5 linked regions of the Homo sapiens genome follow. The protein of the gene in region 1 purifies or fractionates together with the protein of each later gene. This does not show direct contact. Each region holds a gene or a part of one and is shown on either strand. Other genes may lie near its edges. The genes, in order: LARS2, CROT, EEA1, PDE12 and GNPNAT1.

What was found.
Region 2: the proteins of LARS2 (region 1) and CROT fractionate together in Homo sapiens (co-fractionation; one large-scale study listed by BioGRID). This does not show direct contact.
Region 3: the proteins of LARS2 (region 1) and EEA1 purify together in Homo sapiens (co-immunoprecipitation; one large-scale study listed by IntAct). This does not show direct contact.
Region 4: the proteins of LARS2 (region 1) and PDE12 purify together in Homo sapiens (co-immunoprecipitation; one large-scale study listed by IntAct). This does not show direct contact.
Region 5: the proteins of LARS2 (region 1) and GNPNAT1 purify together in Homo sapiens (co-immunoprecipitation; one large-scale study listed by IntAct). This does not show direct contact.

Annotation. Positions count from the first base shown.
Region 1 is NC_000003.12:45,391,479-45,395,567, forward strand, and holds part of LARS2 (leucine--tRNA ligase, mitochondrial), read left to right. Parts: intron 1-104; 5' UTR 105-170; intron 171-2,954; 5' UTR 2,955-2,975; coding exon 2,976-3,209; intron 3,210-4,089.
Region 2 is NC_000007.14:87,344,126-87,348,678, forward strand, and holds the start of CROT (peroxisomal carnitine O-octanoyltransferase), read left to right. Parts: upstream 1-1,538; 5' UTR 1,539-1,642; intron 1,643-2,214; 5' UTR 2,215-2,305; intron 2,306-4,553. UniProt on the Homo sapiens protein: Beta-oxidation of fatty acids. The highest activity concerns the C6 to C10 chain length substrate. Converts the end product of pristanic acid beta oxidation, 4,8-dimethylnonanoyl-CoA, to its corresponding carnitine ester.
Region 3 is NC_000012.12:92,849,124-92,853,212, reverse strand, and holds part of EEA1 (early endosome antigen 1), read left to right. Parts: intron 1-187; coding exon 188-301; intron 302-916; coding exon 917-1,038; intron 1,039-1,946; coding exon 1,947-2,102; intron 2,103-4,089. UniProt on the Homo sapiens protein: Binds phospholipid vesicles containing phosphatidylinositol 3-phosphate and participates in endosomal trafficking.
Region 4 is NC_000003.12:57,558,834-57,562,922, forward strand, and holds part of PDE12 (2',5'-phosphodiesterase 12 isoform 1 precursor), read left to right. Parts: intron 1-476; coding exon 477-555; coding exon of another isoform or gene 556-587; exon of another isoform or gene 588-728; coding exon 729-1,171; 3' UTR 1,172-4,089. UniProt on the Homo sapiens protein: Enzyme that cleaves 2',5'-phosphodiester bond linking adenosines of the 5'-triphosphorylated oligoadenylates, triphosphorylated oligoadenylates referred as 2-5A modulates the 2-5A system. Degrades triphosphorylated 2-5A to produce AMP and ATP.
Region 5 is NC_000014.9:52,778,151-52,782,196, reverse strand, and holds part of GNPNAT1 (glucosamine 6-phosphate N-acetyltransferase), read left to right. Parts: intron 1-285; coding exon 286-413; intron 414-1,456; coding exon 1,457-1,518; intron 1,519-3,738; coding exon 3,739-3,886; 3' UTR 3,887-4,046.

The sequences.
Region 1 (4,089 bases):
GACTCAAAAAAAAAAAAAACAAAATCCATCTGTGTTTTTATTTTTTTATGACACTTTAAAAATATTCTAATTTATTTATTTTATTTTATTTTTCTGCTTTTCAGATCCAGACCTACAGATAAAAAACATTATTTAATCTATCTGGGATTTACTCCGGCTTATGATTTGAGGTGGGGCTCTAATTTTAAGTTTTTCTCTTATTTGTTGAATAATCTATTACTATCTAATCTGCTCCTGCTTTTTTAAAAAAATGAACTTTAAATGCTTTTAAATACCCAGATCTGTTTCAGGATTCTCTAGTTCACTGGTTTATTTAAGCAAAGCAGAGGTCATTAGTAAGCCAGGTATTATGTGAACATTTTTAGAAAGCTTATTCTTGTTGTGTAGACAGACAGTGTAGGCAGAGCAGTTCAAGTCACTGTATTTTATAATTTTGTTGTGCCCTTTTGTTTCTATTTGAGAGGATAGCCCAGAACACTCCTTAGGTGTTCTTTGGGGATGCTGTCTAGGAGAGAAGTGGCAAGCATCCATCTATGTGTCCTCTGCTAAACAGGCGTTCTTTGGCTTGCAAAGGTATGAAAGTATTGACTTGGCAAGAGAACCATAAAATCTGTGACTTCTATATAATTAGGGAGTTCTAATTATAGCAACCTAAGCCCTAAAAATATATGCAATTGCCTTAAGTGTACAAAGCGTATGTATATTAGGTCAGTCATATGGAATTGCTAACATTTAACCAATTTCATATAGTTCAAATGCCTGTAATCAGATCTGTGTACTTTAAAATAGCCAAGCCCAACTAATAGAGAGATTTCTTTTTTATCTTTTTTTTTTTTTTTTTGAGATGGAGTCTTGTTTTGTCGCCCAGGCTCTGGAGTGCAGTGGCGCTCACTGCAACCTCTGCCTCCCAGGTTCAAGTTATTCCTCTGCCTCAGCCACCCTAGTAGCTAGGATTACAGATGCACGTCACCATGCCCAGCTAATTTTTGTATTTTTAGTAGAGAAGGGGTTTTGCCATGTTGGCCAGATTGGTCTCGAACTCCTGACCTCAGGTGATCCGCCTGCCTCAGCCTCCCAGAATGCTGGTGTTACAGACGTGAACCATTGCCCGTGGCCTAAGAGAGATTTTTTTTTTTAAGTCTGCACTTTATTCTATCCCTGAAGAAGCAAGAGGTGTTTAATGTAGTGAGAACTGATAATGTCAATGACTTTGGCAGACCAACTTGTAAGATGCCCACATTATGTTGCTGTCTTATGTGAGTTTGAAACTCACTGTTATAAGCCTATATTGACCTTCCTGGCAACATTTGTGTTCTAGTACCTTTGTGAAACAGGCCAAATCCTGATAGAAGTGGAATTTTGAGAGAATCAAAGAACATCAGCTTAGAGTGCCGGGTTTCTTTATTTCTCTCTGGTTTTGAAAAGATCTGTTGTCATCTGTTTTTTCACTGTAGCACTTCTTGAATGCTGTTATGCCAGAAGGAGAAAGTTTAGGCTATTTAGTCTAGTATTTATATCTTAAATATTTGATAAAAATCTCACCTCAACCCTTTGAATAGCAATAAAACATGAAACTTCTTCAGTGAGGTCATTTCCAGTATTTACCTGTGGAAGAAGCCAACGAAACATTAAAATTGGATTTTGAATCACAACTGGATATCCTGGTAGGCCCCAACCTATGAGTTGTATTTCAAAAAATAGCACTCACCGTGACCACATGTTATATATTTTTGTTTCTCATCTGCCTCCCTTATTGTTTGTTTCTTATCTGCTTCCCTGCTAGTATGTAATAAGTGCTACGAAAGAAGGGACTCTGGGCCAGGTGTGGTGGCTCACGCCTATAATCCTAGCACTTTGGGAGGCCAAGGTGGGTGGATCATGAGGTCAGCAGTTCGACACCAACCTGGCCAACATGGTGAAACCCCATCTCCACTAAAAATACGAAAATTAGCCGGGCATGTTGGTGCATGCCTATAATCCCAGCTACTCAGGAGGCTGAGGCAGGAGAATTGCTTGAACCCAGGAGGTGGAGGTTGCAGTGAGCCAAGATCATGCCATTGCACTTCAGCCTGGGCAATAGAGCGAGACTCTGTCTCAAAAAAGAAAAAAAAACAGAGAAAGAAAGAAGGGACTCTGTTTGTGTTTACTGCTATATTCCCAGTACTTAGAACAACGTGTGGGCCTAGTGGTAGTCATTAAATATTTGGTGGTGGCTCACGCCTGTAATCCCAGCACTTTGGTAGGCTAAGGCAGGTAGATCGCTTGAGCCCAGGAGTCAGAGGTTACACTGAGGTATGATTATGCCACTGCACTCCAGCCTGAGTGAAAGAGCAGGACCCTGTCTCTAAAAAGTAAGTAAATAAATAAATAAATATTTGGTAAATGAAGGAGAAACTAAATGAATTAACAGTCTTCTAAATAATGGTTATTTTCTGGTTCAGCCTACAGGGTATATTTAACTCATAATATGTATAAAAATTACTAATAGTAGTTCAGAATTTCTGGCCCTCCTGGGAGGCCTGTATTTAGACCCCTTCTGATATTTGAGCCTAACGCCAACTCAGCATGTGCTTGAGCTCTTCTGAGGCTTGAAGACATAAGAAGTGAAGCCTGCTGGAGAGTCCCTGGGCTGGCCCATGGGGAGGGGAGGGAGGGCACTCCATGCCTTCCATGCAACTTGTGAGGTTGCGCAGGAGCTGGCCAGCTGATGGTCTCCATTTTTTCCTACAGGATTTTTGCATCTTTGATGTTAGGGGTTACTGACCCTTTATATTTTCTATTAAAAAGTTTGTGTTTAGCTCAATTGAATTGCTAAAGTATTCTTTTCAGGGAAAGAAATTATTAAAAGTAAGAGGAAAGCACAGGGCCAGAACACTGGACTGTGCCAAATGGAAAGATAAGCTCTGGGGAGGGTTTGAGGCAGCTCATAGTGTGCTTTCTGCCCTCTTTTTCAGGGCCTTCTCACCTTCTGAAGAATGGCTTCTGTTTGGCAGAGATTGGGTTTTTATGCCTCTCTTCTGAAAAGACAGCTAAATGGTGGGCCAGATGTCATCAAGTGGGAAAGGAGAGTAATTCCCGGATGTACCAGAAGCATCTACAGTGCCACGGGAAAGTGGACAAAAGAGTATACATTGCAGACAAGAAAGGATGTTGAGAAATGGTGGCATCAACGAATAAAAGAACAGGCCTCCAAAATTTCAGAAGCTGATGTGAGTATTCTGAGAGATTCTAAGAGGGTAGAGAAGAGGGGTTGAAGGTTTGGACCCTGGGGTTAGACTACCTGGTTCAAATAAGATATTAAATATGTGACCTTGAACCAAATTGTTGAATTTCTCTGTGCTTCAATTCTCTTATCTGAGATGGAGAGTGATCATAATAGTGCCCACCTGCACTATTGGGAGGGGTAAATGGATTGGGAGGCATAAATGAGGTGATACAAAGGTAGTGTTTACAAGAGTTTCCAATGTGGTGGATGCACACATAGTAATATTGCGCACGAGGTGTATGACAGACAGCAGCAAACCAGGTGTTCTAGAGCAACATTTACTGGGGAAGCTCATCAAAATAGGAGCTCTACCAGATGATGGGTCCTTTGTGGTCCATTGCATGGTGGGGCAGCACACAGGGATCTGGCAGGGTCATATCTGAGACTCCAGGAGAGGCACCTGGGCTCCTCGCTGGCTACATGTTCTGAGAAGTAACTGCCCCTTCCCTGGCAATCGTAGCCTCCAACTCTGTTCTGCTGCCTTAGCATCATGGTTTGGGGCACACCAGCCCTTTCACTGTTGTGAACTGGGGTAGGGTCTAACCTTGAGGTAGCAGCTACATGAGTTAGTGGACCCTTGGCTTCTGCACCAGGTACACCAGCTCGGCACTCTACCTGAATTAATGGTGGAAGCATAATACTTGGCTGCAGCCAGTTTCCACAGAGTGCTCTCTGTTCCTTTTCTGGGAGGCCAGCTTGCTGGGAATCAGTCTGGAACGTGTTAACCCTTACCTCTTGATACTGGTCAAAATGACAGCTGGGAGATGTGATTGTTACATGAAATGTTTGAATCTGATTGGAGTTTTAAATTCTGATCATCTCTT
Region 2 (4,553 bases), on another chromosome or scaffold:
TTTACAGAAACATCTTGTTTCCATTGAAATAAACAACAAGAGTAGGAAAAAGAGTGAAGCGAAATGGTTCTAAATTCTATGCACCAACAGGCATTAAACATGCATAAACTTTTAAAGAGATGCCAAGACTCACTAAAAAGGAGAAAAAAAATACAACGAAGGTTTCTGAGTAGTTTTTAGTTACTCAATTTAAAAACTTTATCTTGTAAGCAAACTTTAACATCATCCAGAGCATCGCACTTATATATGAAAGAAAAAGTTCTTTATCACACCTTCAGAAATTACAACTACAAATTCCTAATCCCTTATTTAAAATCTTTTTGGCTAGATATGTTTCAAAATTCAGAACTTTTCTTAGAATAGTACGTCTGCCATATATTATGAAACACTTCCAGCAAGCTGTACTGTAATCAAACACAATATTTCTGTAGAAAACTTATGAATATTTACACAAAGGGAACATTCAGTTACACATAGCCTCACTTCCCTTCAGGTCAAACTTTACTGCTAAAGGAGTTAGAAACGACAGACAAAGGAATGGGGCCTGTCATGACATGTTAATTTGAAATCTAAATCTTTATCTTTGATAACTAGTTCAGAGTCAGTGTAAACATTTGGTCTTTCCTTCCACAAAAAAATGAAACAGTGTATTTAAAATTAAAAATGAAACAGTATATTTTATTTCAGAAGGTAAAAGCAAAATGAATTAATCTGTGAAACTAAGTCAATCACATTATGATCTTCTAGAACTTGGGTAGCTCCACTCTGGTTAAAGATTCCATTTCTTGGCACAACAGTAAAAGACATCAGATAGGCCCGGGGGTAAGCATCCCTGGGGTATTCAAATAACTTGGGTAGCAATGAAGAGCTGCAGAAGAGCAAGGAGACCCGAGATGATGTAGTGTGCTGCGGCATACCTGAGTTGGGCAAACTCAGCCTCCGAAGATTAAAGGAAAGAGCCCAAGTAGGAATCTGTGTGATCACTGTTCTTTTGCCAAGACACGGGGTGGACAATAAGATTCCTTTACAAAGCACTGGTGTAAGTGTTCGCCTGGTGCTGCAAAAAGCGGCTCACTGGGAATGGGGAGGAGCGTGTGGTAAGCCAGACCTGCGGCGAGAAGTTGGGTGAAAATGGGTCTTAACCATCGCTTCCTGCATCTATCCCAGAGGGTTGGGTACCTTCGTGGGCGGAGCGCGGCCTGCCCAGAGTGCCTTCTAGATCCTGGGTCAGGCGCCAAGCTCCCCAGCATCATGCAGGAAGCTGCAGCCCCGCAGAGTTAGGACAGCTCATTTGGCACCCGGCGAGCCCTTCCCAGGCCCGCAGCCCAGAATAGAGCCGGGGCCCAAGACGCCCACTGGAGACAGGGTCGGGTCCCACTACCGCGCAGGCCCGGCTCGCCCCCGACGTCAGGCACGGGGCGGGACCCTTGCAGCTGTCCGTCCAGTCCCGTTCCCCGGAAAGTGAGGGGCGGGACCCTCGCGGCTTTCTATCCAATCCTGTTCCCCGGCGAATGCGGGGCGGGACCCTAGCGGCCTTCAGTCCAATTCCCGCACCTTTGAGGCCCAAGGGGGAGCGAGCCGGTGCTGCTGCAGGCTGAGGCTGCGGCAGAGGCGGCGAGGCGCGGGCGGTGAGGACGGACAGGTCCGTTGAAGCAGCATTCCCTCCCTCCCCTAATCCTTCAACTCGGGGGCGGGGGAAAGTTAAGTCGTGCAGAACCGCAAAGGTGCCTGGATTTGGTGGGGGAGTAGTGTCATCAAGCATCTCGCCTGCTGGGGTCTCAGGGGTACCCTCAAGGTTGGGCCGCGGGGCTGCTCCGTTGTAGTGCTTAGATTTCTCTCACTTGATGGCCTCTTGAGTGCAGAGTTGCTCTTGGGTTGGTGGGAAGAGCCTCCGAGCTCTCATTGCCCTCTGCTCCTGCTTCTACCCCTTGCCACTCTGCGACGAACCTGTTACCCAGCCACTGAAAACGTATCCTCTACCCTTTGAACCCGTCTAATGGAAGGTGTACTTGTCTGAAACCTACTTAATTGTATGATCATTTACTCCTGCTCTCTAGCAGGTGGACTATTTGCGTGTGTTTGCAGTGATTCACGAAAAGTTTGTCTTGGGAACTCCCAACTCCTAGTTTGTCTGCATTCCACCTTCTTTCACTAGCTTGTTCATTTCTTTTTCCCTCTTAAATATTTGTTAAGCTTGTTTCTTTCTTCCCACAGTCACCGACTTAGTCCAGTTCCCTGTGATCTCAAAACAATTGTTGCAGCAGGCTCCTGGCAGTCTCAAGCAGTTCATCTTCTTGGTGTACTGGTATGTGACAATTCCTTCACGTATTGTTCGTGGTTCTTTTCCACTTTCTGTGAATTCATATCTAATTGCCCCCAGAAAGTCAATTCTAATTAAATCTAGCATAATCATTTTCTTAGTGCTATTGGAACCATCTTATTTAACTTAATCTTTGTGGTTGAGAATTCAAGAAAACTCTTCAAGAAAGAATCCAATAATTTATATTTTTAATGTGTACCGGTTGGTGGGTTAAGCACTATAGTGGGTATGTAACTAATACTCTTGCTTCCAGTTTTCTAGAGTCTATTAAGTGGCACAGAGGTAAACAGAATAGCTTATCTTCTCTGTATGTGTGTACTAGTCTTCTATTGCTGCCTTAACCAATTACACAAATGCAACAATTAAAACAACACAAATGTATTATCTCATAGCTTCTGTAAATGTGAAGTTTGGGTGGGCTTAGCTGAGTACTTGGCTTAGAATTTCACAAAACCGAAACCAAGGTTTCTGTAGATTTGGATTCTTTTCTGGAGGCTCTAGGGGAGAATCCACCTCCAGGCTATTTCAGATTGTTGGTAGAATTCACACTGACATTTCTATATCCTTACTGTTTGTCAGCCTGAGCCTCTTTCAGTTCTTTAAGGCCATCTGCATCTTCAAAGACACCACAAATCCTTCTCAAGCATTAAAGCAGTCTTACTTGTCTGCCACTGGCCAGAGAAAGCTCTTTGCTCTTATGGACTCAAGTGATTAGATTAGTTCCAATTCGATAATATCCCTATTTTAAGGTCAGTTCTGTAGAGAATATCACAATCACAGGAGTAATGATCTCACCATATTCGCAGGTTCTGGGGATTAGCAGGGGTGGAATCTTGGGGGCCATTCATAGTAATTGTGCCTACCACAATATGGTGGTTTCAGGCAGGATTATTTTGTTTTTATAATGTGCTTTCACAGGCATTGAAAACAAATTCTGACTTTATTGAATTGTATGATTAACCACTCTAAGATAAGGAAATTCACTTAAAGTTGGTTGCCCTAGGGGCACATGGCTAGAAAGTGGCAGAGTCTGTACTTGGATCCAGATCTACATTTCCATTAGGTACAAACCCATTTTTATGGATGGTCAAAATGGTGTGCAGCCAAAGTCAATAGATAGAAAGAAGCTAAAGAACTTTGAGTTAATTATTATTTCTCATTTTCAAATTATCTCTTTATATTAGTGGTACAGGCTAAGCTCTTCTCCCTACAATAGAAAGCCCAAAATACAATGGTATGAATAAAATAGAAGTTTTTTTTTTTCCATACATCTAGAGGTAGGAGTCCAGGACTAGTAGGGAGATTCTGCAATCCTGCATATATGACTTCCATAAATGAGGCCATGGTGCTGTTTAGTTCGTCACTACCTAGCAGGTAGTAAAAAGGAGGGAAAGTGCAGGGAGAACACATGCATTCCTTTTTGGGAGCATGACCTGGAAGTGACACACACAAGGTCATCACAAAGCCACACTGAGCTCCAAGAGAGGGTAGGAAAGATAAAACTGGGGGCTGTATGCACAGCTACAACTCAGGATTCTGTTAAAGCAGAGGAAAACAGGTATTAGCTGAAAATAGTCTCTTCTGTGTCCATGTTTTTGATAGTGTTCGATTCTGTAACCTATGAGTGGAATACTTTGTTTAGCGTTGCTATCAGTTTTAAAAAATAGTTTTTGAGAGAATAGGAAGTTCAAATTCAATATTAACGTTCTTTGATTTCTCAGTTGCTATTTTAACATATAATTACATTTAATATATTACATTATTTAATATAATTAATATATGATAATTTACAAAGGCTTTGAGAAACCTCATTTTTTATTTAGCATTTGTATACCTTATTCACATTTTGAGTTAGATTTCTTTGATAGCAATTAATACACGTGTCAATATGTTCAAGATTGCTTTGGAACACTTGAGACCATTCTGTGTAGACCTCATACGACCTGTGCAATTAAAGCAGCTTGTCATATGATTTATGTATTCTATAATAATCTTTAATTCTACAGTTGGACACTTCCACACCTCTTTGTACTTTGTGCTCCAAAGTTTTCTATATCAATGCAATATCAACACATAATCCTTTTCTATACATCAAATACTATCTACCCACTAAGATTTACTGCAGGTTCCCTTACCTTCTATCATGTTGTTTTGTATAGGGGAAAGATTGTAGTCTTAACAGATCTGGGTTTGGGTCCTGTGTTTGACATTAGGTAAGTTACTAAATTTCTGA
Region 3 (4,089 bases), on another chromosome or scaffold:
TTTGTAAATTATGATTTGTACCTTAAGTGAAGCAGATATACTTAATTTCTTGAAGTGTCAAAATACTACTTGTAATTGGATAATAAACTTAAGTTGATCATCTTTACAACTGTAATAAATATAAGTAATAACAATTTAGCATATGTAATTAACATGGTATTTGAATAACTGCGACACTTTTTTGTAGAACTACAGTCTTTGGAACAGCAATTAGAAGAAGCCCAAACAGAAAATTTTAATATTAAGCAAATGAAAGACTTATTTGAACAGAAAGCAGCCCAACTTGCTACTGAAATTGCAGGTAAATTGAGTTAGAATTTTTTAGCCAATAAATCAATCTCATTACCTTTTTGCCATTATATACCCTAGCAATAAATATAGTATTTTAGTGTGTTAAAGCATTTGTGATAGACTTCCAATGGTGATTAATGGAATTTAATGATTTCAGAGTTGCTATGTAAATTATTTTGTTTGTCCTCTAGCTGCCTGCCTTCAAAGGACTGGTGTTTCTTTGTAGATTCTTCTTGAAATTTAGAGAAGATACATTTTCTTCTGTGGCATGCTTAAAGATTAAAAAGGAACATTTTAAAGAAGTGAAGTAAATAATGTAGTATAAATGTAACACTTGGTTATACTATTACATATATATGTTTTTAACATGTGCTTTTAGGTAAAATATGTGATTAAGTACATTAAAATGCTAATTATTAACTTAATGTTGAGTGGAATTTATGTAGACAGTTAATTTTAAGTTCATTTCATGTAATTAGAAGTATAAATTTACTGTATATATTTATGGTTATCTAAGGAATGTGAATTTGAATTAGAGTGATATACAGATATGCAGAGTAATATATGGAAACTTATAAAACTGTCCTCCCCTTAAACTAATATTTATATAACTATCTTTAATTAGATATAAAGTCAAAGTATGATGAAGAAAGGAGTCTTCGAGAAGCTGCTGAACAAAAAGTGACACGTCTGACAGAAGAATTAAACAAAGAGGCAACTGTAATTCAAGATCTGAAGACGGAACTGGTAATTTAGGAATTATTTATTGAGATGTACTCTTATACCTTTCTAAATTAAAAATAAAATACATACCCTGAAGGAAAATGTTTAAAAATATAATTTGAGTGAAATCAGGAAATAAGCAATTCCCTATATTCTACCACCTGCATATATATTCTGTATATGATTTTTAAAATAAAAATGGAATGTTATGATACGTAACTTACTACCTTAACATTTTTGTTGTTTCTATCTAAATATCATCTGTCATTTTAGTAGTTTTCATATCTGCATCTCTGATCCTGGTCTTCTCTTGCATGTTTGTTTTATAAATCCATCTGCTTTTAGGGTACTTTGTGTTGAATTTCTAGCTTTAATTTCAAATTCAACAAGTATAAAATCAAAGTAATCATGTTTCCTCATTACTGTATTTCTGTTATTGGAACCATACATCTCTAATACTCTCCCAAGACTTAATAATCTTGGATCTGTCCTTGACTTTCTTTCCTTTATTTAGCTCTCAATAAATATATAAATTAACTACATCCAACCTGGAGCAAACTCTATGCTTTCATTTGCTCCTTCATTTTTATTACCAGTTTTGTAGGATAGAAAAAGAAGGAATGTAGCATTTTCAAGTCACTGTTATGACCAATAGATGTAGTTTGTGAAGGGAAGGAAAACAAATAAAGTAGTAAAGATAATTGTGAATTTACTATACAGCACCTTGAGTATTAATACTATTAAATATGAGGTAGGATGGGAAGAGGAAGTGGCTTATTGTGGGAGAAGATATCAGTGTTCAATGTTTGAAGTCTAAAAATTGATATTGATGATTGTTTCCCTTTTGATTCCTTTGTAGTGAAATGATTCTAAAAATGTGTATTATTTTAGTTTTTCACTTTAATTTTTAATTAAAATGTGTTGTTTCACAGCTTCAGAGACCTGGTATAGAAGATGTTGCCGTGCTAAAGAAAGAACTGGTCCAAGTTCAAACACTAATGGATAACATGACCTTGGAACGTGAGCGAGAATCTGAAAAACTCAAAGATGAATGCAAAAAATTGCAGTCACAATATGCTAGCTCAGAGGTAATGAAGTTCATTGTACTTAAATGTGATTCATATTAGCTTGTGTAGTGTATACTATTGAGTGAAGCCAGGATTTGAGATTTTTCTGAGTGGCCTATCAAAATATTTGTCTTTCTTTCATTTTTGATCTGAATAATATTTGTTTATAGTCAATGTGGTCTCTCAGTATGTTTTGCTTTATAAAGCTAGACACTCAGGAATATTTGCATAAAGATTATTATTCTGTTTAATATATATATTGTTGACATGATATTTAAGGTTAAATTTACTCAAGGTTGGTTGATAAATGGTAATTGACTTTAAAGGAAGAATGATAGCATTTTCTACAATTATATTACCAATTTTGTTTAGAAAATATATTTAAGAAAGGCTTATTTTGTAATAAGCTTATTTCTTTTTTTTTTTTTTTTTTTTTTTTTTTGAGACAAAGTCTTGCTCTGTCACCCAGGCTGGAGTGCAGTGGCGTGATCTCAGCTCACTGCAACATCCACCTCCCGGGTTCAAGTGATTCTTCTGCCTCAGCCTCCCAAGTAGCTGGGATTACAGGTGCCTGCCACCACGCTTGGCTAATTTTTGTATTTTTAGTAGAGATGGGGCTTCACCATGTTGGCCAGGCTGGTCTCGAACTCCTGACCTCAGACGGTCTGCCTGTCTTGGCTTCCCAAAGTGTTGGGATTACAGGCGTGAGCCACTGCACCCGGCCATAAGCTTATTTCTAATTGATGGACTTTGAATTATGAATTTGAAAGAAGTCTTGAACTAGTCTAAATTCAGTCCAGAACTTCCCTTTATGCCAACCCTGCTAAGTGATCCACAATCCTTGCTAGGTGGTGTACGGTGTGCATATTTCTTCCTAAGTCTATTTTATTGAGCTGACATTTGTTTCCCTGTAATTTACATGCGCTGGTTCTGGTTCTGTCCTTAGGAATTACACAGAATAAATTGTTCCTCTTTCCACATGAGGTATTTGAAGACTGCTCATATTTATTCGGAGTATTTCTCTTCCAAGATAAACATTTTCAGTTCTTCTACTATTTCTTACATGACATGACTTTGGCCTGTAAATCCCTTGTATAATATGTCAGCATTTAATAAACTCTAAGATGTATAATACATAAATGTGCTTAAAAATCCTAGCCTTTGTCCTTTTTACTTTATTATAGGAGACATTTTGTTATGACTACTGTTATTTGTAGTCTTTAAGCTCCCTTATGTAAAGTAGACCTCTGATTTTCATATTTTCAGTTTAAAAAGTTGTTACCGTAACATTTTAATTTGAATCTCTTCCTTAGAGTTTTGTAACTGGTGATCTAAAAGCCACTCTATTCACAAATATAACATGTCATCAAGCTTTGGGGTATAAGTATTATAGATAACCCATGTCTAATTCATTTTTAAAAATCTTTCTTTATCTTATGGGAAGAGATGGTGAAAGTTTGTGGATATAACACACATAGGCATGTAAGGCCTTATGATGCCTAACACTACACTCTCTAACTTATGATATTTGGATGCAGTTTTTCCAAAATTGACACTTTGTAGCCCAATAACACTTAATTCCAAAAATTTTCAAACAATTTCAGGTGGTTCATGAACTTACTGAAGCCAGTTAAAAGCTCTTGTCCTACTGGTATTATTAATCAGCAGAAGACAATGATAAATCTATAAGTACAAATGTGAAATCAAGGAGAGGCTGAATCAAAGAAGTCTCATGAGGAAAAGTGCTATTCAGATGTTAATGTCAAAATACCTAAACCAGGGTGAACCCAGTCATTTATTTCTTTGTATCAGTAAGAACTATTTTTGTTTAGATATGTCTGCCTATTGGTATTTCTCAAATTAAAAAAAAATACACTCCCTTTTGATTAAAAAATATCTTAAATGCTATTTGAAATTTTAAAATAAATGTATTATGGTGACTAAAACAGAACCAAATTAATGTCAGTTTTAGGAATATGTATTTTAAAGTTGAGTCCTCTCTGACTTA
Region 4 (4,089 bases), about 12 Mb from region 1:
GTAGATCCTGAAACTTTAAGTTGGATTTCATGACTGCAGTCCTAGTTCATCAAGGGAAGGAGATGGAAGAAAACGTTAGTTCGCCATTAGTCTTAGATAAAAAACAGGCCGGGCCTGGTGGCTTATGCCTGTAATCCCAGCACTTTGGGAGGCCGAGGCGGGTGGATCACAAGTCAGGAAATCGAGACCATCCTGGCTAACACGATGAAACCCCGTCTCTACTACAAATACAAAAAAATTAGCCGGGCGTGGTGGCACGCGCCTGTAGTCCCAGCTACTCCGGAGGCAGAGGCAGGGGAATCGCTTGAACCCGGGAGGCGGAGCTTGCAGTGAGCCGAGATCGCGCTACTGCACTCCAGCCTGGTTGACAGAGTGAGACTGTCTCGAAAAAACTCAAAAAAACAAACAAACAAACAAAAACATTCAGGAGATTTGCAAATGCCAACTGAACTCTTGGCACTTTCCGTTTATTTTAGGTTTCAGTTCTTCAGTCTACAAAGGACTCTTCTAAAAGGATATGTGTTGCTAATACCCATCTTTACTGGCATCCTAAAGGTAGGTTTTATTTGGTATCACAAGTGACTTAAACACGCTTAAAGTTGTTTAAAGTGTTTTACACAAATGCATATCTTGAACGTCACCCAGAGACTGTAATTTGTGTAGTTTTTCTTTTTTAACTTAAAGACAACTTTAAAAAATACTTACATTAATGTTTTTTATATTCATAGGTGGGTATATTCGCCTCATTCAAATGGCAGTAGCCTTGGCTCACATAAGACATGTTTCATGTGATCTGTATCCTGGCATACCAGTTATATTTTGTGGGGACTTTAATAGTACACCATCAACAGGAATGTATCATTTTGTCATCAATGGCAGCATTCCAGAGGATCATGAAGACTGGGCTTCCAATGGGGAGGAGGAAAGATGCAATATGTCTCTTACACATTTCTTCAAGCTGAAAAGTGCTTGTGGTGAACCTGCTTACACAAATTATGTTGGTGGCTTTCATGGATGTCTAGATTACATTTTCATTGACTTAAATGCTTTAGAGGTTGAACAGGTGATTCCATTACCTAGTCATGAAGAAGTTACCACCCACCAGGCCTTACCTAGTGTTTCCCATCCCTCTGATCACATAGCACTTGTATGTGATTTAAAATGGAAATAGATGTGTGTTTAATGGAATTGAAGTCTGAAAAGGAAGTAGTTATTTTAGCAGAAAATTTAATATGAATCAAAGCTTATATGTAAACTTCAAGGAGGAATGGTAAAATGTTCAGCCCTCCTAGTTATGTTCCTGATGTCTTCGTTATGAAACTGTTGATGTTTGCATCATACATCTTCTCTTTCCTTGTTTTCCTCTACAATTGGAGGAGAAACAAATATATTTCTTACTAGCAAAATAGAAAATTGAATTATTTTTCTCCAAATTGAGACTCTCAGAAAAGGAAGATTGAATTAGCGTGTTTTTTGTTTGTTTGTTTTTGTTTTTGTTTTTGTTTTTTTGAGATGGAGTTTCACTCTTGTTGCCCAGGCTGGAGTGCAATGGCACAATCTCGGCTCACTGCAACCTCCGCCCCCTGGGTTTAAGCGATTCTCCTGCCTCAGCTTCCCGAGTAGCTGGGATTACAGGCGTGCGCCAACATGTCTGGCTAATTTTTGTATTTTTAGTAGAAATGGGGTTTCGCCACGTTGGCCAGGCTGGTCTTGAACTCCTGACCTCAGGTGATCCACCCACCTCGGCCTCCCAAAGTGTTGGGATTACAGGCGTGAGCCACCGCACCCGGCCCTTGTGTACATTTTTATAAGAGAATTTTTTTAGCTAGGAGTTCAGAATTTTTAAAGTACCATTTGAATGATCTTAATTTTTCTTTCATGACAACACATTCCAAAATGAATCATGCTTATGTACTAAGAGGGAAAATGTATTTAAGTTAAGGGTGAGAGACTTAAGTTATAGGTGACCTTAGAGACCTAAGGTGAGAGACTTGACACATGGAAGGAGTAACATTAGGGTCTACCTCTACCTCAATTTAGTTAGCGATTTACTACAATTTCAGAGCTTTAACAAAAGATAAAAATAAATCGTCACCAATTGTTATTGCTTCTCATCTTTCATTTTTCAATGAACAAGTAAGGTATTTTCATTCTTATTTTTAGGATTTTAGTTTTTAGTGTATGGTACAAATGAACACAGTTTATATTCTAATTCTTACTGCAGCTCATTTTAATTTTTAGGATGCAAGCACAATTTAGTATTCAAAGTGAGTAGCAACATATTCAACTTGATCCCATTGTCTTCAGTTACTCTTGCCCATGAAAAATGTTCATAAATGAACAGGGTATTTGACCATATGATATTAGAAAATACAGCACATTACTTTATGAGAAACTACCTACTGATATGGGCTTGAAATTTTGGATGAATCATTGAGCATTTCTACACTAGAAGTAATTTCAAAATTGTTGGTTTTTATAAACAGGAAAAAGGTTGAGTAGTGGGACTTTTAAGCATCTCTGAAATAAAAAACTTCTTTTTACAGACAAGCATTATAGTTTGAGTTACAGACAACAGTGTGTATATATGTAATATATATATAGTAAAATGAAATTTAAATATGAAGCCAAACTTTTTAAAATTAGAAACTACAAATGGTTATACTGATTAGTGTCTAGCCTAGAGTGGTAACCATGCTTTACTAATTCAGTTATGAAATACATTATTTATAATGCATTAGCTGTATTAGCTGTTGCTTTTTTGATGTTCAGGATAACTATGTTATCTCATTTCTGCATTTAATTAATAGCTCGAGTATTAAAAGCCCACTCCCTTCAAGAAAAGCTTTGATTTTCCCCAGTCATGAAAGCCCTTGTTTCAAATTCTTTAATCTCTGAACCTAGTATCATAAGAATTTCCTCTTTTGATAACATCTGTACTTTCATATTCTGCTCACTATCAAATGTATTGTTAACACTTAGTAAGTTTGAAAATGAAGGGGTTTTATCTGCATTTGACATTGAACCTTGAAGTACTTTAAGTACTCCAAGGGGAAAATTAAAGTGGAAGTTTCTTCGGATCTTGTTTAGAAAAAACTATAAATAAAAAATTGATGCTACCAAATTGTGCCTTCCTAAATAACATTTTTGAGAGCATTTTAACAGCAGTTTACAAATATGTAAATAATAGATTAAAACCAAATCTTGATTCTCTTGTGAATTTTTTTTTCATTTTAAAAATATGTTTTTGGGCTGTTTTCAAAGAAAGATGTTGATAGAACCCTTAGAGTGACTTGGGAGAAAACAAAGTGTCACATCAAAAAGTTGAGAAACATTTTGAAAGAAAAAATTCGAACATGCCCATGAAAAAAGCATACAGCTTCCACATTAACACTGGCTAGATTAAACTCTAGTCAGAAAAACTCAGCACTTAACAGACATTCCATGTCCTATATCCTTAATTTTGATGTTTTCTGACTAAACAATATACTCAGATTGTATACAGGCATTTCACATTATTAGGACATGGAATGTTATTGTGAAGTGCCATATACTGTGATCAAATCTCCAGTATACGGATACGTTAAAATGATTGGAGTCCAAAGGTAGGGAACACTAAGAAAATGTATAAATAGCATACACATTTCTTTGTACTCATGAGTTAGAATGCAGTGTTATTCAGAAATGTCTGTTTAAAGCACCTATGTGATTGCATTTTTCTATTACATTTGGATTTTTTAGTACATTTAATTTTAAGAAAACATGGGAAATCTAGCGACTTTCTATGGTAAACCACATTTTATAATGTCACAAGTTCTTGCTATAGGAATTAACATTCTAGAATTTTATATTGATTATAAAAGAGTATTTCAGAACATATTATTCTGTTAAAATGAACTCTTGCACAGTTGCCGCTACAGCAAATGTGTCTGCCAATAATCAAAATTCATGAGCAAACAATCGTTTCTGGCTGTAATGTATGTTCTTTTTGAAATTCTGTATGCTAAAATCAGTTGTTTCAAAATTTCAAGAATTCCACTGAGTAGTGATTTTTCTGAGTACTAAGCTATGATCTCATCAGAATGTGCT
Region 5 (4,046 bases), on another chromosome or scaffold:
CAACATCAGCCATTTACTTGTATTTTAAGTGTTGTTCATCTAAAATAGCTATATTAGTCTTTATTTTGCTAGCAGATATTTTGAATGTGTAGGTTATATTCCAATTGATACTAATTGCTGATATTTCAACTACTTGGTAATATTTTCTTTAGAAATGGAAGGTAAATTACTATGGTAAAACAGCTTTAAACATTTAGTAATTAAGTCAGCTAATCCTAATATTTTTCTGGCTCCCCATAAAATTGAATGTCTACTATGTAACACTTTGTTATCCAATTTCCACAGAATCTTTTGAGCATATGAAGAAATCTGGGGATTATTATGTTACAGTTGTAGAAGATGTGACTCTAGGACAGATTGTTGCTACGGCAACTCTGATTATAGAACATAAATTCATCCATTCCTGTGCTAAGGTATGTGCTGCTTATAAATAAAATGGACAGCTGTTTTCTAGCACAACTGACTTTGAGTTTCCATTAGACAAATCTGTTTTCTCATTGATTTTCAGTGCCTCTTAGAAATCCCTTTTCCCAGTGTGTTCTGAGAGCTTTAAGAAAGAAAATGTATAACAGTATGAATTGTATGCTAAAATTGTTCTGTAAGGTGGATCAATTTGGTATAGGCATAGAGAAACCAAACAACTTAGCAGTAATGCACAAAATCCCTAATGTTACTCTTTTAAAAAAAACAACTCTGAATATACCACGTTAGCATAAATTTGTTTCCACATGGTAAAGGGTTCAGATTATTCCGTTCTAATTATGATACATCTAATGCATGTAGTGCCCTTTCATCCCTCAATAACTCACATAAAATAGTAAATAAAAAAAGAGGGAGAGAAAACCTTAATTCAATGAGAATAAGGTAGGAACACTTGGGATGTGTTCTGTCACACTTAGGAATTTCGGTGGGGTTTCTGTACTAGACATTAATTTTATTTGGATATCTAAAATAACTTGCTAGTAAGCAAGGAGTAGAATGATGGATATATTCATGAAAAGGTTACATTTTGGTGATGTTGATCCTGATATTTGTTTAAAGACAATGGGGTGGGAAGGTTGGGGACATAGCCAAAACAAGTTTAGGTCACAACTTGACTCATACTATTTCCTCTAATAAGTAAAAACATCTTTAAATTATTAACTTTTAATAGTAGTACTCTCATACTAGTAGGAAACAAACTTTTGGGCTAATCAGATTTGCCCCAGCTTCTCTGTCATATTTAAAAACAAAGGAAATGTTCAGCTATTACAGAATATTCTATGATCTCTCCTTCTCATAAGTTGTAGAAATACATACTGAAACAGCCTTCACTGTATAATATTTTTTGCATTTGATTTCTGTTAAGTTCAAGTTTACAAAATATACTACTTATTATCAGTAAATTCTTACCAACTCGTTTTAGCTAAAAACAAAAGTAAATGCTTACTCCTTTAAACATTGTAAATATTTTCAGAGAGGAAGAGTAGAAGATGTTGTTGTTAGTGATGAATGCAGAGGAAAGCAGCTTGGCAAATTGTAAGTAGGCAGAAACAAGGTAACCCTGGATAAATTTTGTTCCAATTTAGTTTCTTAACAAGATACTTGTTTGAAGTTCTTTTTGGCTTCATTAATTCTGAACTTATTCTCACTCTAATAGTTTAGACTGAATTTCATGAAGAAATAAAGTATTATTATACATATTTTGCCTTAAAGTTTGAAAATTGGAAGCATACTTCTTTACAGACAGTAACATCTTTAAATTACTAACTTTTTATAGTAATGCTCTCGTCCTAGTAGGAGATAAACTTTTGGGCTAATCGGATTTGCCTCAGCTTCTCTGTCATATTTAAAAACAAAGGAAATGTTCAACTATTACAGAATATTCTGTGATCTCTCATTCTCATAAGTTGTAGAAATACATACTGAAACAGCCTTCACTGTATATATCTAAATCATTTAAAATAAATATAAATAAGTGGTATTGATTTATTGCCATTTTATAAGAACTTGTAGTTCTTATTTATTATAATTTTTAGTTTTTGAGACAGGGTCTGTTTTTGACAGCTCTGTCACCCAGGCTGAGGTGCAGTGGCTCAATCTCAGCTCACTGCAGCCTCAGCCTCCTGGGCTCAAGCAATCCTCTTCAGCCCCCCAATTAGCTGGGACTACAGGTACACGCCACACCTGGCTAATTTTTAAAAATTTGTAGAGATGGGGCCTCATCATGTTGCTCAGGCTGGTCTCAAACAGTGCTCCTGCCTTGGCCTCCCAAAGTGCTGGGATTACAGGTGGGAGCCACTGTGCCTGGCCCAAGAACTTGCTTTTTAACACTAACTCTTCTGAGTTTTAAGGAATTAACAAATATTAAATACCTGCTTATGTACCAGATGCTATTCTAGGTATTTGGAATACCTCAGTGAACAAAACAGACCGATTTCTTGTGTTCTAGTCTATATAATTTATGTTTTTTTTTTTTTTTTTTTTTTTTTTAAGAGATGGGATCTCTTTCTGTTGCCCAGGCTGGAGTATACAGTGGTACGATCACAGCTCACTGCAGCCTTGAATTTCTGGGGCTCAAGTGAGCCTCTCGCCTCAGCCTCCCAAGTAGCTGGGACTACAGGTGCATGCCGCTGCACCCAGCTAATTTTTTATAGAGATAGGGTTTTGCTATGTTGCTTTGGCTAGTCTCGAACTTCTGGACTCAAGTGATCCTTGGCCTCCTAAAGTGCTGGAATTACAGGCATGAGCCACTGCAACCAGCCAGGCATACTTCAGTCAAGGTCTTTTGTTTTTTTTAAAAATAGGATTTTTTAGTCTGTTCAAACATGGGCAGACCCTTCAAGTTTGTATATCTTTTATAGTTTTTATCCTCTAAGGCACTTAGATCCACACTTTAATACTGGGTTTGGATTCATTAAGAAATTTTGTATAGATGTAGACTTGCTTTGTTTCCACTTCATATTAATTAGACCAATCTTGAGTTAATCTGATACACACCTTCACAAATATTAAAGTAGCTTTAAAAATGATTAAAGAGCAAAGCTATTATGTACTCATTTTATGTGGGTATGTCGACTGCTCCGAAGTTGTTTAAATAGATTTAAATAAAGAATTTTTACAAAATAATTTTGGTCATTTTTTTTTTTAAAGGTTGAGTTTTTAGTGTTAACATGCATCTTAAAATTCGTTTTTCTTTTTCAAGACAGAGACTCACTCTGTTGCCCAGGCTGGAGTGCAGTGGCACAATCACTACTCACCGCAGCCTTGACCTCTCTGGGCTCAGGTGATCTTCCCCCCTCAGCCTCTGGAGTAGCTGCGACTTTAGGCATGTGCCATCATGCCCTACTAATTTTTATATTTTGTAGAGATGGGGTTTTGCCGTGTTTCCCAGGCTGGTGTCAAACCCCTGGGCTCTAGCGATCGCCTGCCTCGGCTTCCCAGAGTGCTAGGATTACAGGTATGAGTCACTGCACCTAGCCTTAAATTTCATTTTTAAAGAGGGCTTAGGGTGAGTTTTGTATTTGTCCTGTTTATTAGTGAGCTGGAGATTACTAGATAAAAGTATATTTGACTCTAAGTAAAAATGCTTTGGTGATTTAAATGCTTATCAACTTACATGAATGCAGTGGGAAAAGCCATAATCTAAACCTGTTTCTAAGGAAACTTAAGTTTTATAACATTAATTCATATTGTTACTAGAATCAATTTTTATTAATAAATGCTATCTCCTCACCCTACCCCCTTTTTAAATTTCAGGTTATTATCAACCCTTACTTTGCTAAGCAAGAAACTGAACTGTTACAAGATTACCCTTGAATGTCTACCACAAAATGTTGGTTTCTATAAAAAGTTTGGATATACTGTATCTGAAGAAAACTACATGTGTCGGAGGTTTCTAAAGTAAAAATCTTGTAAGAAAATTGTCAAAGGGGCTAATGCTACAAGGCTACACTCTTCCTAGAGTTGAAATATTTTGTTGCTGCAGCCGAGTGACCTCCATAAATACTGGACTGAAAAAACATTGTAATACTACAAGTATAATGACATTTAGAAGATTACTTTGG